Regions from separate parts of the Homo sapiens genome. Here region 2 is linked to region 1. Evidence: fine-mapped expression QTL. Tissue or cell type: left ventricle. Region 1 holds a variant in brackets; the other region holds the start of a gene. All regions are shown on one strand. Distances are from middle to middle.

Region 1 (8,109 bases):
GTGTGTATTAGATATGCTTCCAAATGTATAGCCACTGTGATCGAGTGTCACTGCCACTGGTTCAGAGTTTTCTGTTTCAGGGAAAGCCAGTAAAAACCTGACTTTTGGAAATTTCCGTTTATTGAAAAAGGCAGACAGCACCACTTTTGATAGTGTGCTTGTTAAAAGGCTTTAAGAAGAAGATATTTGACTGGCTAGCAGACATTTCACATAAGAGATGGTGTGTCACCAGATAAAGAGTAGAGGGGACTGGGGAGAATGGGATACCATGCAGTTATAACCCACTTTCCAGAGAACAGAATTCTGGTCCCTCGCCTTCTAAAACACTGGCAAAATAAGGAAGTAAGAAATGTGTTCTTTGCAGAACTAATAACTCAGAAAGCATACAAACAAGGGCCTGTTAGGAATGCACTCGCAAACTATGCTAATTCTGGTTTAACTCATGATTCTGACACATTGTCCTGGCCCCAGAGAAACTTGGGTAGCAAATTTGAAGGAGAAGAAGAAATATTGAAACTGGGGATTCTGAAGGCAACCAAATCTGAGTTTGGATCTCAACTTTACCAGTCAGATGCATGACCCTAATCGAGTGATTAAACACTGTGGACCTTTCCTCATTCGATCGTCTGTAAAACTGAAAAAAAAAAATTAGCACTTTATATCTTCCAGAGTTCTTGTGAAGCTAATGCATTGAAAGTACCCAGCAGATAACTGTACAATTGTTTCAGTGATGGTGAATAGCAACAAAACGGAAAGGTATCACTTACTGAGAGCTTCTTATGTGCCAGGTTGATCTAAGCATTTCATAGGTATCAATTTATTTAAATATCACTATTATTATTGGAGTTAGACTGTGTTATCTCCGTGTACTCTGGCAACTAGGAAGAGCTTTTAAATGTTTTTATGCAGAACTGGAAATGCACAAGCTTGTATTAATATGAAAATTGTGATTTAAATTAGAAAATTCTCAATATCTTAAATGAAAATTATTGCTCCAGGATGATAAACCAGGATGATCTGTGGATCCAGTTGTTACTTCCTGGGGGTAAACACACCATGGTTTGAGAATTACAGCCCTGCACTCCTCTTTTTATCTCACCTCTGCTGTTCAGGGGCTATTGTGGATGAGCTGGTGATGGTAAGAGGGGCAAGTGAGGAAGGGATATGCCCCATGACCTTGTCTCTTCCCCCTTCCCCTGCGAATTCTGGATCCCTGCCCACCTCCTCTTCAGCTCATCAGTAGTGACATGCCAATGTGGTAGGCAGCATAATGACCCTGCCCTAAAGATGTCCACATCCTAATCCCAGAAATATGTGAATGTTACCTTACATGGAAGAGAGGATTTTGCAGGTGTGATTAAATTAAGGGTCATGAGATGGGAAGATTATCTTGGATTAGTGGAGAGGGCTCAGTGTAATCACATGGGTCCCCACAACCGGGAGGCTGGAGGGTCAGAGTGAGAGTTGTGGCCACAGAAGCAGAAGTCAGAGTAATTTAGGGCCAGGAGCCAAGGAATGTGGGAAGCCTCTAGAAGCTGTAAAAGGCAAGGAATTAGATTCTCCCTCAGAGCTTCCAAAAGAAACCAGCCCTGCCAATACCTTGGTTTTAGTACAGTGAGACTAATTTTGGACTCCTGACTTTCAGAACTATAAGATAATAAATGTGGGTTGTTTTGTTACAGCAGCCATAGGAAACCAATATACTAGGATAGAGTAAGCCTAGATTTCCTCTGAAATGTGAACGAATTTTCTATCTATCTCTGTTGCAAAAGAGAGAAACTTTTATCCCTTTGAAAATTTCCCACTACAGCTTCAGAATAATCATGGGCTTGAGACATGATAGCGAGGGACCAATGTGAGAAAAGAAAGCAGTGACGGGGTGGACCTGCCCTTTGGATAATGTTTCCTAAAGTGACATTCAAGGAGATCGGCTTCCAGGGTTTATTCTGGCATGGTAGTTAAGCACATCTCCCTGTGACTTTGGAAATCTTTAGCCTCTTTTTGCCTCAGTTTCCTCATCTGTAAAATAAGGTTAATCACAGCATTCACCTCAAAGAGATGCTGTGTGTAATGTTTCATATAGTACATGCTACATGGCAAGCTTTATGTAAATGTTAGCTCTTATGAATAGCCATTATTTTAAAAAAGTGAAACAGAATTTATAGGGGGTCCAATATGTTTAGAACAGGATCCATTACATCAAACAGGCTTCTTTTCTGCAGGGTATCTCAGAATCTTTACTATGGTAATGTTCACTTTATACCTTAAAATTGGAGGGAAAATGCAGGAACATTTCTCAAACTTATTTAACCATAGAACCCTTTCTGATCTGTAACAATCTCAGCAAATCAGATTTATTGGTCATAGTATGAGAAACACTACCCTTAAAAGTTACACCAGGAAACCTTGGTTCACCTCTCTCCAACTCATAGTCCCTGTACCCAGCTTCTAGAGCCATCACCGAACTGGAGATTGGGGACCCCCATCAGAACAGTGCAAGGAGAAACATGTGCCTAGTATCAAAAGCTGAAGATTAGAGGCTTTTTTCCACGTTCACATTGTTCTAACATTGTATGTTATCATATCAGTTAGCTTGGCTCCTGGGGACTTGCCTGGGAACCTAGCATTGTTTCCATACCATGACACTTTAGCTCCAACCAGGCAACCTAGAAATAGTTTAGAATGTAATTCACAAGTTGGGGACCTGTACTTTAGCTTCAAAGTAATGCTGTTGATTTGTGAGCAGATAACCTAGAAATATATACATCAAAATGTTTATTTTACTCTTCAAATAAGCAATTTTCAAAAAAGAATTGTGTATTTTATAGGGTGGAAGTATAGCATCACTAAGTTGTATTCATTCTAGGGCGTATGTTTTTAAAAAAAAACTAGTGTCATTACTTTGCACAGGCATGCCTTGTGTAAATATAGGAAATCTAACTTCTGGGGAATTTCATTTCAAGAAATCAGACCTGGCTCACATAAAGATACCTTTCAAAAATGAAATATAGCAAATTTAGTCAAGCTTAGGCTGTTTTGTTTTGAAAGCTATAAAGAAGTAAACTATAACCTGCTTTATTTTTAGCAGACACCTCTAGAAAACCTTGCACAATGTTCTATTTATAAAACAGAGTCTGTTTTCATG[C/A]AAAGTTGCTTAGTAATAAGAGAAAAGAGCAAGACTGAGTATCGGAAAAATGAAATGTTTCTGTTTTCAAGATTCCTTGAATTCATCAGCATCTCTTTAAGACACAACAAAGCAATTGACCTGGTTTTAGTTTTGACTATGAGAGGTTACCTGGAGATTGATAAATTGGATTTTTTTTTTTTTTTTGAGACAGAATCCTGCTCTATCCCCCATGCTGGAGGGCAGTGGCGCGATCTCGGCTCCTTGAAACCTCTGCCTCCTGGGTTCAAGCAATTCTCATGCTTCAGCCTCCCAAGTAGCCAGGATTACAAGTGCCTGCCACCACACAGTTTTTGTATTTTTAGTAGAAATGGGGTTTTGCCATACTGGCCGGACTGGTCTTAAACTCCTGACCTCAGGTGATCCACCCACCTTGGCCTCCCAAAGTGCTGGAATTACAGGCGTGAGCCACCGTGCCCGGCTGAAAAAAAGTGGAATTTGAAATGAAAATGCAGTCTGTCTTTTATGAGTTATGCCACTGAGTAAGCGACAGAGGACCTAAATAATTATCAGGTCATTTCAATATCACATTATATAGAACATTTATAATTTCATCATCCTTTAAGGCATTAACAAAAAAACAAAACAAAACAGAAAACAACACAGAAGAAAACGTGGTTGAGTAAATTCAATGGCTATAGAAGATTCTAGAAAGTGAAAGTAATGACCCAATACAACTAGAATGTAGTGTAGGAAACAGGCAGTTTCCACCATCTGCTTTATCATTCTGATCAATTTTGTATCATGCTGTTTCCTAATCTTTACAATAACAATAAAACCAACATTTATTTAGGGGTTATTATGTGCCATGCACTCTGCTAGGAGCTTTATGTGGATTATTTCATTTAATGTTCCCAACAATGTGTCATTGCCATAGATAATATAATTATCTCCATCTTACAGATTGGGAAACAGATTCAGAGAGGTGCAGCAGCTTACTCAAGTTCACACCTTTGGAGGTGTTAAAGCTGGTTCAGACACAGGTCTGACTTCAGAGCTGCACTGTTAAGTGCTACCTAGTGTTAAGTGGAGCCAACAGTGAACCAACAGAGAATACACACACGCTGTGTGCCAGAGGCTCAATGTAGAGACAGAGGCTGGTCTCTAGTCTGCCTTTTTATCGTAATAATCCAGGAAAGCTTAGGAATCCCCCCCAACCCGCTGCAAAAAAAGCCCCACATCATCCATGACAAAAAGAATAGCTTTCCTGTTTTTCTTCACATTTTTCGCAGCCATTTCTTAGCTTCGGAAAACTTAGGTGTGTTCATCTCACCTTGCATATATATATTGCATATATTTTATACACAATTGTCTGTTTACCTGGCTGCCTCCTCATCCTCTTTCATCTCTAATTCTGATTTTTCCTGAATACAGAACCTGGTGGGAAGTCATAGTTCTGCACATGTATGATGGGTGAATGGAAGAGCATGCCCAGATGCAGATTGAACATAGACATGGTGTGCAGTGTATGCTGTGGGCTGGTTTTTCTCAAGCAACATGATGTCTTAAGGATTTTCTGTGTTGCCACCTAGTCTTCAGAATTAACATTTGCATAATATGTATTTTACTGGATATTCCAATCATGGCAAATTTTTTAACCATTCTTTTTTCTGCAGAATTTAGAAATAATTGTTCCCAATATTTTGTTGTTACGAATTACACTGTGTGAACAACTCTGTGCATAGCATTTTTACTTACTTTTGGATTATTTCATTAGGATGTAATTTCTAGACAGGGATTACTGAATCATAGTATAAGCATTATATATGGCCTGTGACAGCATTTTCCGATATGAATATAACGTGAACTACATAGGTAATTTTACATTTTCTGGTAGCCACATTAAAAAGTAAAAACATAAAATAAAATTTGGTTTAATGATATATTCTATTTGACCCAGTTATCAGAAAGCAATCATTTAAACATGTATTCAATATAAAAGCTATTAAAGTATTTTCACATTCTTTTTTTTAATATGAAGCATCCAAAATATGATGTGTGTTTCGCACTCACAGCACATCTCCGTTTTCAGACTAGCTACATCTCGGGTGCTCAGTAAATACGGCTATCATATTGGGCAGCACAGGCCTGTGATATGTCTAATCCAGTATTTTTAAATGACCTTTGCTTTTTAAAAGCCCAATCTTAATTTGCCTTGCCCTTTCCTAACCTCCTCCAGTTACACGTAGTATCTGGCTCATTCCCTTGGGCACTTATTTTAAGCTGTCTTGACTTTTTCATTGTTATGAATATTTTCTTGACCTCTATTTTGTGTCAGGCACTGTGCTAGATCTTGGGGGACACCAAGATAAATAGGACATGGTTTGCAACCCACTGGGAGAAGATAGACATACCCATAACACAACGTGGATTCAAATGCTTGTCGGAATGAGATAGGAAATAATTTTGAGAAAAAAAGACACACACAAGCAAGTTATAATGCAGAGCATGACAAATTCCAGAAATGAGGATTAAACAAAGGGCTGAGGGGATTGGGGAAAGCTTCTTGGGGAAAATCTAATTATGAATTGAGCCTTGAGGGCTCAGTGAAATTTTAATGGGCAGAGATATGGGAGAACAGTTTTGCCTGTGATGATCTTGTTATCCCAACCAGATGGCAGGTTGGTGAAGAGTGGGGCATTGCCTCACATTGCATTTAGATCTCCCCAGAGCGCCCTGCCAGAGTTTTGCAGTAGAAGGTGCTCAATAATGTTTGTTGAGCCCAATTAATAATATATGGTTGGCTGGCACACAGTGAGGGAGACACCGGGTCTGTGTGCTTGCTTTAACCTCTGAATTGAAGGGCAGTCTAAGCTTTTTACTCATTCCTCTGATTGTGTGTACTGCCAGTTTGCAGTCACAGTTTTCTCACTTTACTAAATCGGTCTGGACTGAAACTAGTCGTTTAGAGCCAAAATGGTAGATAAATGGGGGCTAACACTTTAACTTACATCTGACCTCCTTGTCACTTATTCCAATTCCCCCGAGCTTTCAAACAGCACAAACAGGCCACAGGGACAAGAAATGACATGGGAATTAGAAGACACTTATCAGAAGGTGCTTTCCTTTTATTTGCAACTCACACATATAGGCCTTTGTTTGACAATCTTGCTAGAGCCTTAGGAATTTTTGTCTTCATTCCACAGGTAAGGAGACAGGAATTCAGAGAGGGTACTTATTCAAGGTTATATAGCAAGTAAATTGGAAAAGTCATGACTAGAACTTCTCTTTTCTATCTCCCAAGTGAACGTCTTCTTTTTATTCGCAGTTGGCCCACCCATATCAAATGTCATCTTCCATTGCTTTGTGACAGATCTACTCAATTCTTTGGTATCCACATCCTACATCTGAAAAGTAGAGAAAAGGTAAACTTGGAGGTCATATGAAGTATGGAGAAGATAAGTTAGGGAACAAAAACCAAAGGGTTGGTGATATTAATATCTATAATGATATTAACATTCATAATGATGATGATAAGAGTCACCATTTAATTTTTAATCTATATAGGCAGGCTGTCTGCTAAATGTATTACATATATTATCACATTTAATCTGCACAACATACGTGTATGGTTGCTATTTTTATCTCCGTTTTATAGATGAGAAAACTGAGATCAAACAGATGAACTTGTCCAAGGTCATATTGCTAAGTAGAAAGCAGCTGGAATTTGAATCCAGACCTAACTTCTAACCCTCTTAACTTAATCATTGCACTACAAAGTTCTGGTTCATGCCAACTTAGCTTAGATGACCTTAGACAAGTCGCTACAACTTCTATTTATTTTTTATTTTTAGAGACAGCCAAGGCTGGAGTGCAGTGGTGTATCAGAGCTCACTGCATCTTCAAACTCCTGGGCTCAAGGGATCCTCCCACCTCAGCCTCTCAAGTAGCTGGGACTACAATCATGAGCCACCATGCCTGGCCCCCAAAATCCTATTTATGTAGACTGTTTTTCCCAAAATTAATACTTTGCTCACCTCTTGGTAAACTGATAAATGTGAGAATTATTTGTAAGCAGCAAAGTGGTATACAGATATATAATGTTGTGTGCATTTAAACTGAAATTTCTCAGTCAGATGAGAGATATATACCAGCAACAGAGTGATGTCTGGCACTAAGCAGGTGCTCAATAATGTGGCTTATATTCATTCCATGAATGAATTTAAGACTTCCTTTGCTGAAGATGCTTTTTTATTGCCACATATGGAAATGGGTGGTAAAGAGAAAGAAGGCAGGCCGTATGTCAGCTTCCTGAGCAAAAGTCCCCACACCCACTAATTTCCCTACCCCCTTAATATTCTAGGGCATTAATGGGATGTAGCTAGGGAAGAAACCACCTTAGAAAAAGTAGAGTCGAAGTAGATGTTGAATTCTCCAAATTCTTCCATCCATGCTCCACTTGCATTTAGCCATCTGGAGAGTTTTACATTGAATAATTTTTCTTCCAAATGATATATAGTCATTATAGAAAAAGTTAAATAAAAAAAGAAATAGAAAGGGAAAAAAATTCACATCACCCATAATCTTTCCCCTCTCCCTTCACCCCCAGAGATAACCTAACCATTAGGCATGTCCGTCTGTTTCTTTTTCTTCAAAGCATTTTTTACATGTTTGAATTCATACTGATACACGAAAGGTAATACTTTACTTTTCCACTGACCATCAAGGAATTTTCTCATGAACTTACAAACTCTTCATGAACATTCATTCTTAATTCAGCTGACAAATACACATCTTCTCTGTGCCAGGTGATGGGGACACAGTAGTGAGCCAGACTCATTGAGTTTCCAATTGACCTTATGTTTAATGGCTGTATGGTATTTTATTGTCCACTTATCAATTGTCCCCTTTGGGTCTATTTTGCAGGTAGCAGGCTTTCTTGCTAGTAAAATGCTCCCCAACTGTATATCCCCTTGATAATGCCC
Region 2 (8,109 bases), 150 kb before region 1:
GTAAAACAGTCTTAGGATTATTCCATATTTCTAAAGGCATTAGCAAGACCTTTAAAATGTGCTATTTTAACTCCTTGGGAAGTCCTTAGCTCTTATCCTACAACACTGCCTCATGACATCACTTCCTCTCCCACAGATCTGGTGTGGATTTTTCTTAATTCTGTATTTGCCTCATTCACTGGTGTGTTCTCTTCTTTACTTTCTCATTTATTGACCCACACAGTCATTTAACAACTATTTCCAACATAAAGATAAAGAACTCAAAGAAATATAGGACATTGTTATTCAACTTGGAGGGGTCATAATAAAAACATTTGAATGAACATAAGAACTGTGAGAATTCAGAAAAATAAAATAGTTTGTTGAGTTTTATTTTCTAATTACATCATAGTGGTAGTTCTATTAAGAGGCTCTGATTTCTGATAATATACATCTTAGCCTTTGCTGTAAAATGATAGAAATGCTTACAACTTACAGAAAAAAAGAAATAAAATAGTTGCTGTTTGTTCCTGCAGTTAGACTGGTACATATCATTTCAATGAAATTATTCAATAACATGCAGTAATTTCAATGGATTGCTTTTTAGAAGAAGAACCACAGTATTGAACCAAGTTTTAAGTCATACACATCTCTGAAGTACAGGAAAACCTGTTCTCATAGGGAAGATGAAAGCCAACTCCAAATAAAGTATTGAGCTTTCAAGGGAAGCATCATTTTCTTTCCAAGCTTCCACCCAAAGTTCTCCCACGCTCCTCTTTCTCATTTTCTTTCCTAAATGCATTCTGAAAAGATAATTTAAAAGGTATTGCAGTGGGCTATCAGGAAGCATATTTACCAGTTCCTTCAATGAAATCACTGGGGAAAGGGTCCAGCTTTGAATTCCATTAAAAGAAAAAAATTGTAATATTTCCTTGAAGCCAATCATAAACTTAGTATTTGATTTTCATCCTTCTTTTCTTTTCCATTATACACAATAAAAGTTGAATTTAACAACAACAACGAAAATGGAACTTATAGACTCACTTATCTTTAAAAAAAAGCTGAAGCTTATAGGATTTAAAATTTGATATAATGAGGTAACATTTCAAAGCTTATATGGGAGATGGGATAGACATGGTTCACATCCAATAATTTTAAATTAAGCTTTTAGTGTAGGTAGCTGTATTTGTAGACAATATGATTTAACAAAATGCAATATGTTCAAATCCACGTAAAGAGAATTATTTGAAAAGTGAGTGTCTTTTTGTTCCTGGTTTATTATTTAAATTCATTTTCATATCTCCAGCTTGCTAGTAGCCTAATGAAAATAAAATTTCATAATCCAAATATAACTTGGTCACTATTGGATAATTGATCTATCAGCAGGTTGACTTCTTCCAGCACTACAAATTACAATTTTAAGCCTTTTTACCTCAATTTTCCCCACTCAGTAAAATGGTATACAAATTTCCATCAACTTTGTAATGGATAACCCACTTGATTTTTTATGGCATTAAGTATCCTGTAAAATGTACCACTAAAGTAGAAAGCATTATTATTTACTGTCTGGGTGCACATATTTAGATTCAGAATCATGTTCAAACTAGTTTGTCTGTTTTGTTTGACTGCAATTTTTTTTAAAGAAGGAAACCACAGAAATTATTTGGCTGGTGATGCTTTTTTTTTTTTGAACTGATTAAATCAGCCCAAATCAGTCTAAAAATTCAAACTATTAAGATATGAGGAATGTAGTACTCAGTCACAGAGTAAAGGAAACAAAACCAAGCATTTCTTCAAAAACGTGATTCTAGTCAGTGTTCGCTGATGGGCTAGAAAACAAAAGAAAACAAAATTTAAAGGTGCCTCTATGCCCCCATCTTTGGCATCCTTTAATGTCAATGTCACTTGTTCTGATTTGTGCTGGGCAAGGAAAGACACTGTCCTTTCCACCCCAGCACATTTGACAAGCACTGACACTCTGGGCATGCTGTAAAATAAAATAAATACATTAGTAAGACCATTTCCCTTTTCATTTCAGCCTAGGCATAAGAGATGGGTTACTTAAAATTCAAGTGCCAGGAAAGCCCATTGTAAAAGGGAAATATTTTCAAGTGAATTCCGTTTGATCTTTTTTTATAGGGGCTCCTACAAGCCTCTCTCCCTTCCTCCCCAGACCCTGGAAACCAATTAGTCTCAGCACAGAGGCCACAGACCAGGTTGCAATGGCTCCTTTTTATTTTTAGGGGGTATAATTTCAGCCAGGATGTCTAGTCAGTTGTCACATAGTATACTTAGCACACTTCTCTCTCACACACATATATATACATTGGATTTCCCTTCAGAGAATGCACAGATCTTTCAGTCTGACTCCTAGAAAGGAATTAGATCTGGTTGCTGTCCCAATCTTTCAGCAATGACAATGGCATAACATCACAGGGCCACCTCATCTTTCACAGACAACCCTGCCAACCAAGTTTTCTAAAAGCCTTCTCTCCCTTGTTTTCTGTCTTCCAGCATTTCAGCGGCATTTCCTTTCCTTGTGTTGTTTGTACAAAATTCTGAAAACCTTTTCTTCCATTTTCCAAAGTAGCAGACAAAACTGGACTAAGTTTGATTTTTAAAATGCTTTTGACATGCTTATCTTTTGGGGAAAATTTTATCCAAAAGACGAAAATGGAAACAATTAGAGTCTTTGCCTCTCCTCACCTTCCTGTCCTGAATCTGCCTTAATTCATGGAGGTAAAAAAAATGATCAGCTGGGTTGGCCTTTTCTTTCTCAGCAACATTGCAGAGAGAAAGAGGTGAGTGTGTGAGTGAGTGAGTGAGCGTGTGTGTGTGTGTGTGTGTCTGTCGTGTTGAAAGGCTTGGGGAAAAAGGAGCACAGCTCTCCCCCAGGAAAGCCTCAGATCAGCAGATGGGAGGGAACCTAGGGTCGCCTTCCTAGGTCTGAGCGAAGTGTCCCAGCCGCTCCCCTTACCCCTGCGGTGAGCCCTGCGTCCTGGAACGGTGCCAGGACTCCTGACAGAGCCTGGCAGGTCGGTGGGTGGCGGGGAGCTGGGTGTTCTCTTTGCAGAAGAACACCATTTGGGAGAAAGCTCCCTTCTTTTCCTGGGGCACCGTAGCCCGCCTTCCTTCCCCTATCATTTTTTACGCAGATCGCACTCATGATGATGAACTTGCAGCTCAGCTTCCTGCCGCCTGCTTGACCCGGGAGCACCAGCAGGCTACCGGGCCTCGCCCTCGGCTCCCTCCTCCTCTCGAAACCCTGGGGCTTCGGGGCACCGGTGGGGGTCCGAGTGGGCAGGGACTGCGGGAGGGGCGTGCAGGGGCGCGGGGTCCCGCCGGGGAGCGCGCACGGAGCGGCGCCTCGGCCGCCCTGCTTCCTGGAGCTGTGCTCCTTTGACCCCAGTGGCAGTCCCTGTCACTGCACCGCTCGCTCTCCCTCCGGCTCGCCGCGCCCTCGCTCCCTCTCCTCGCCCCCTCGCTCGCTCTCTCCCCAGATCGAGGCTGCTCGGGTCCTTTCTCCCCCCGCCTCCCTCTAGCGCCGCGCCCCCTGGCCCCCAGCCCCAGCCTGCGGCGGGACCTCCGGGGTCGAAGGTTCTGGCCCGCTCGCGCCCCTCGCCGCCCCCGCGCGCCCCCAGCGCTCCTCCAGCCGGCTCGGGCCGCTCGGCTATGGATCGCCTGCTCGCCGGGCGCTGAAGGCATCCCCGGGATCCGGAGCGCAGCCCGGGAAAGGTAATCCGCCCCGGGAAGGGAGGCGGAGGGCGGGGGAGGGGGAGGAGGCGGCCGGGAGCCCGGTGCCGAGCACTAGAGGAAGGGAAAAAAATGCACACACAAAGCGGAGCCCGGGTGAGAGGTGCCTTGTCAGAGGCGCGTGCGAGGGGCTCGGAGGCTGCGGACCCGGGCTGCCCCGGTGCCCCTGACATCCGCACGAGCGGGCGCCTCCCGGGCAATTCGGCGCTCGGGGAGGGCTGATTTTCAACCCCTGAGCGAAAGCAAATTCTTTTTTAGGAGGTGTCTTCCCTCCGACTCCCCATCCTGCGCCTCTTCTCTTCTCCACCCCCTCCAGCCATCAGTCCCCCGACCTCTGGGGGTCCCCACCTCTTCGCTCCCTCCTCCGCCAGGATTTCTTAGGAGGAGAGGAGGGGGTATCGGCGAGAAGCTGGGGAAGCCGGGCGGCGGGGATGGGGGTGGGGACGAGGGCTCAGCGAGCTGTTTACTAGAAAGTCCCGGGGTGATGTGTTCGAGCCGCCCCGGCCTAGGCCTGGGTGCATTGTGTTGGCCCGATCCCCGGGCTCCCGCGGCGGCCCGAGGCCAGGTGCAGTGACGAGGGGAAGGCACCGCGCAGCTTTGTGCTCCGGCTGCGCCCCGCGGCCGCCCCCGGGGCCGCCCGCGCGCGCCGCTCTCGCTCGGGGCTCTTTCTCACCCCGTCCCCGCGCCCCAACCTCACTCTCCGCCGCTGCCTGGGTCTCCGCGCTCGCAGCCTGCGGAGCGACCCGGCGACCCAAGCTGGGGTCGAGGCTAGGCGACGGGGGACGAGTACCGAGGAAAAGTAACCGTTGCCGCCGGATTTCTTCTCTACAGAGGCAGGAGTTTCTTTGCTATTTACGTATAACAAGGTTATCTTTGTAAAGCCTTTGAATTCCGGGGTTTTGCGGCCTAGGAGGTGAAGGGGGCATTTTTCTAGAGGCTCAGGAGCCGGTTGGAATCCGTCAGCAAGAAAATAAATTAAGGATGCCCCAGTGAAGTTGATTTATAATAGTACATCACCACCCCCCTCTCACACACACACCCCAAATTAAGTGCAAATGCGGGTCATGAAAAATGTATAATTGATTTGAGATGCTGCAAACAAACACAAACAGGTCGGGGGGGTGGGACAAACAAAAGTTTAAGTGAAAAAAGATGTCAGAAGAGGGGGAGATCCCGTGGCCTCCACACCCCCTTCCAACGCTCGCTGGCTCCCTCCCTTCCTTTCTCCGCCGTTCCAGGGAAGGAACCTGGCAGCGCCCAGGCGTAGAGCAGGGAGGAGGCGGCGGCCCCGGGCTCGGGCTCAGCGCTGTGGGTTCGGGGATGCCAACGCGCCCGGGAGGCTGAGGTCGGGGACGTGGGGCTGTGATGCCCGACCGAGGATGGCGTGGTGTCAGAGCCATTGGCCGCCGGTGGTCATCAATCAATCCAGAGCTAGGGAAGAGGGAGAGAAAAAAGATAGGCGTCCAGCGGAGCCCGGGGCCGCCAGCGCTAGCGCCAGCAGTGCCAGCAGGAGCGGCGGCCGAGGAGGTGACGGAGGTGGCAACGGGGGACTGAGCGAGTAAGGCGCTGGTGTTTCAGGAAGGAAGGGGAAGTTGTAGCCGGGAAGAGCCAGCCGTGAGCCTAGAAGGGCAGGGCGAGTGTATGTGGTGTGTGTGTGTGTGTGTGTGTGTGTGTGTGTGTGTAGTTCATAAAGCACCCCCCACCCCGCCTCGCGCAACTGCCCACCACCCTAGATTTAAAACAAACAAACCAATCCAAAGTAGAGAATTCCGCGCCCCCCACCGCCCCACCTTATATAGACTCCACGAGTTGCCAGAGGCTCCGGAGAAAAGTCTTGCCCTCCCTCTCCGAAAGAATGTGTCACCCGGGTGTCCGCAGTGCTGGAGACAAGTTCAGGTGTAAGTGCGGTGGGAGGGAGGGCGCTCGGTGGACAGAAGCACGTGGAACTTTATGTCAGCCTCCCCCAAAAAAACCCTGGCGGAGAAGCCCGCCGGGAAGGCGTGTGGGCATCGCTCCCAGATACAGGGATGAGTAACTGGAAGTGGGCATAAAAGAGTAGGGGCGTGAATTAAGAACGCACTGGATCTGCGCGGCAGAGGGAGGAGAGAGCGAAATTTGGCGGATTTGGAGCAGGCAAGTTCCAAAGTCCCGCCAGGCTCGGTCTGGAGATCTTGGGGCAAGTGATTAAAATGAGCATCCTTGTTGAAACGAGAAAACCGCGGGCTCTTTTCTCATAGGCTGTGCTGGGCAGTGCAGGGGTAGAGAGGTCATGAGTTGTTGCTTTGAAAGTTTTGGTAAATTGGACTTCTGGTGTCTAGGAGGTGGAGACAGTTATTTAATTCCTCAGCTTTTAATCCCTTCATTGCCAGCCGACTTTAAAAGGTTTTCCAACTAGATTCCTGGAAAAGAATATTGCTAGTTGTACAGCTTAAAGGACAGAAGTGATTGCTGTCTAGGAAATGCAAAATGTACTCACATGATTTTCTTTTTAAAGAGAAAAATCAAACTAGCACCAGCATGAATGTTTGGCAGTGTCAGTCCCTTTTAGATTTTTCTTTCGGCTTCTTGATATTTCGTCCTGGGTTCCTTTGTTTTGTGGAAAGTGTGTTGAAGTATAAAATGAAAATTTATGAAAAGAATAGTGCTGTCTTTAAATATTGTGTGTAAAAAGTTAAAGTAAGTGTGAAGAGGGTGAGATGCACGAAAATCTGATCATTTGGAAGGTTTTACTGCCTAAATATACATCTTCTTGATAGTTGTAAGCAGTGTATCCTTCTGTCTTGTTTCAAGCTCTCTCCAAATTTCTCAGGTTATAGGAAGTGGTTTTGTCTATTGTCCCTTGTCTCTGAGAGTTTACCAAAAAAAAAAAAAAAAAAAAAAAAAAAAAAAGAAAAAGTCTTTTCCAGGTGTTTGTGTTTAAAATTCTTAAGATGTGTTCATTTTGAGATACGGGTGGGGATGAACATAGCATTTTAAAAAATAAGCCTTTTCTTGACTTGTCTGTAAAGGTGCTGTGAAAGTTTTGAAGCTCTCTGCCTCAGTCTGACATTTTCTTCAAAGGACTCCAGATTAAAGAAGATAGACGCTGCAGGTGCACTGTTTCGATGAAACATTTGAAAGGGAACATGGCAAAGATGAATTCAAATGAGGTGCCAGCCACCCATTTAGCCTTTCAGAGTTACAGGGGCCTGTGCTTGCTGATGAAAAGATGTTCTATTTGTCTTACTGGGGCAAAGGTGCAAAGAGGCATAGATGTTCAGTGATAGAGAAGGTTGACATTAGGATCAAGCGGACCATGTAGAAGTGCAAATTGATCAGCTGCTAAATTCTGTCTCTTCTTAGCTTCAAATAGTAGAACTTGGGTGGGTATCATGCTAACTGCTACAAGTCATTACCTAGATGTTTAAATATTAGGTATGTATATTTTATTTCTAGGCCACATTTGCTTGGTTTAATTAGTGTGTTTACTCCAGAAACATTTAAAATCTTTCTAGTACTGGGTGCAGAGATTGTTACTCAGAGGTCACAGCGGTCTAGACATGAATTTGATTTCCTTTGCTTCTTAATGTTCAGTATTTCACACAATAGACATTGATGGAAGAATGAACATAAGAATTGTCAAGTAATTTTTACACCACTCTCTAATTTATGCAAACACTAACTTCTCACAGTCTGAAAATGTGAATTTTTCCCCCTCTGTGCTTTGATGGCTAACATTCTTTTTAATGACAGTCATTTCTATAACAGGAAGATGTTTTCATTTGTATTTACTTTTCAGCGCGACGCAATTATGCAGTTTTGCGCTTCAGTAGTGTCTCGGTACTTTGTGTCTCAAAAGAGAATTACAGTACTTAGAACAGGACTGCAATTTGAAGCAGGTGTTGTGTTTTACTGTTATGCAAAATAACAGTAAAATATAATTGTGGGAGAAATTAAGGAAACAGCTGCAAACTTGGTATGAAAACTGCTACATTATGATTTGTAAGCAGTTCTTATAGATATCTTACATCAGAGGAGCAGGGAAAGATTTTAATTTAGTTAATCCTACTGGCCTGGTTGTCTATCATCTGGCGCTTAAAAGACTCATACCTCCCATGAAGTCAGGAAAAAGAAAGAGAACCCAAAGTGACACTTTGTTTAAAATGCCAGAGCACGGGGATTCATCTCTTGGCAGTGCACTTGACATTAGGAAGGCAGGCAAGGTGGGTGTTATTTAGCTTGCTTTGCTAATATGAAGAAGGCAATGATTTGAGTAGAACACTCTGGAATTTCTTAGCCCAGCTAGCATATGGGGGATTACTCAAGCCCCGGGTTGTAAAATAATAAAATAAATGGCCTATGGCAGGCCATCTGCCTTTTGCTCGATATTTAAGGTGT

Alleles and levels. Positions count from the first base shown, and alleles are read on the strand shown. Sizes are in standard deviations (SD) of each study's normalised expression.
In carriers of allele A in region 1, the expression in left ventricle of the gene that starts at base 3,403 in region 2 tends to be lower than with C alone (moderate effect, 0.41 SD a copy in GTEx).

What was found. PIP is the estimated chance that this variant, and not a neighbour inherited with it, causes the effect.
Region 2: MPPED2 starts here. The variant in region 1 is fine-mapped to the expression of MPPED2 in left ventricle (GTEx, PIP above 0.99).

The regions. Positions count from the first base shown.
Region 1 is chr11:30,427,391-30,435,499 of GRCh38, reverse strand. The region is part of intron 4 of MPPED2 (metallophosphoesterase domain containing 2); the gene reads left to right. Among named protein-coding and RNA genes, the nearest start is that of ARL14EP, 110 kb to the right of the region's middle. The variant C/A (reference allele first, on the strand shown) is at 3,146.
Region 2 is chr11:30,581,647-30,589,755 of GRCh38, reverse strand. MPPED2 (metallophosphoesterase domain containing 2) reads left to right here and starts at 3,403. Exons shown (of 7, transcript NM_001584.3): 1 at 3,403-3,714. It overlaps MPPED2-AS1 (MPPED2 antisense RNA 1), which reads right to left and starts at 5,606. Exons shown (of 5, transcript NR_183760.1): 1 at 5,523-5,606. RefSeq lists a silencer at 3,449-3,498.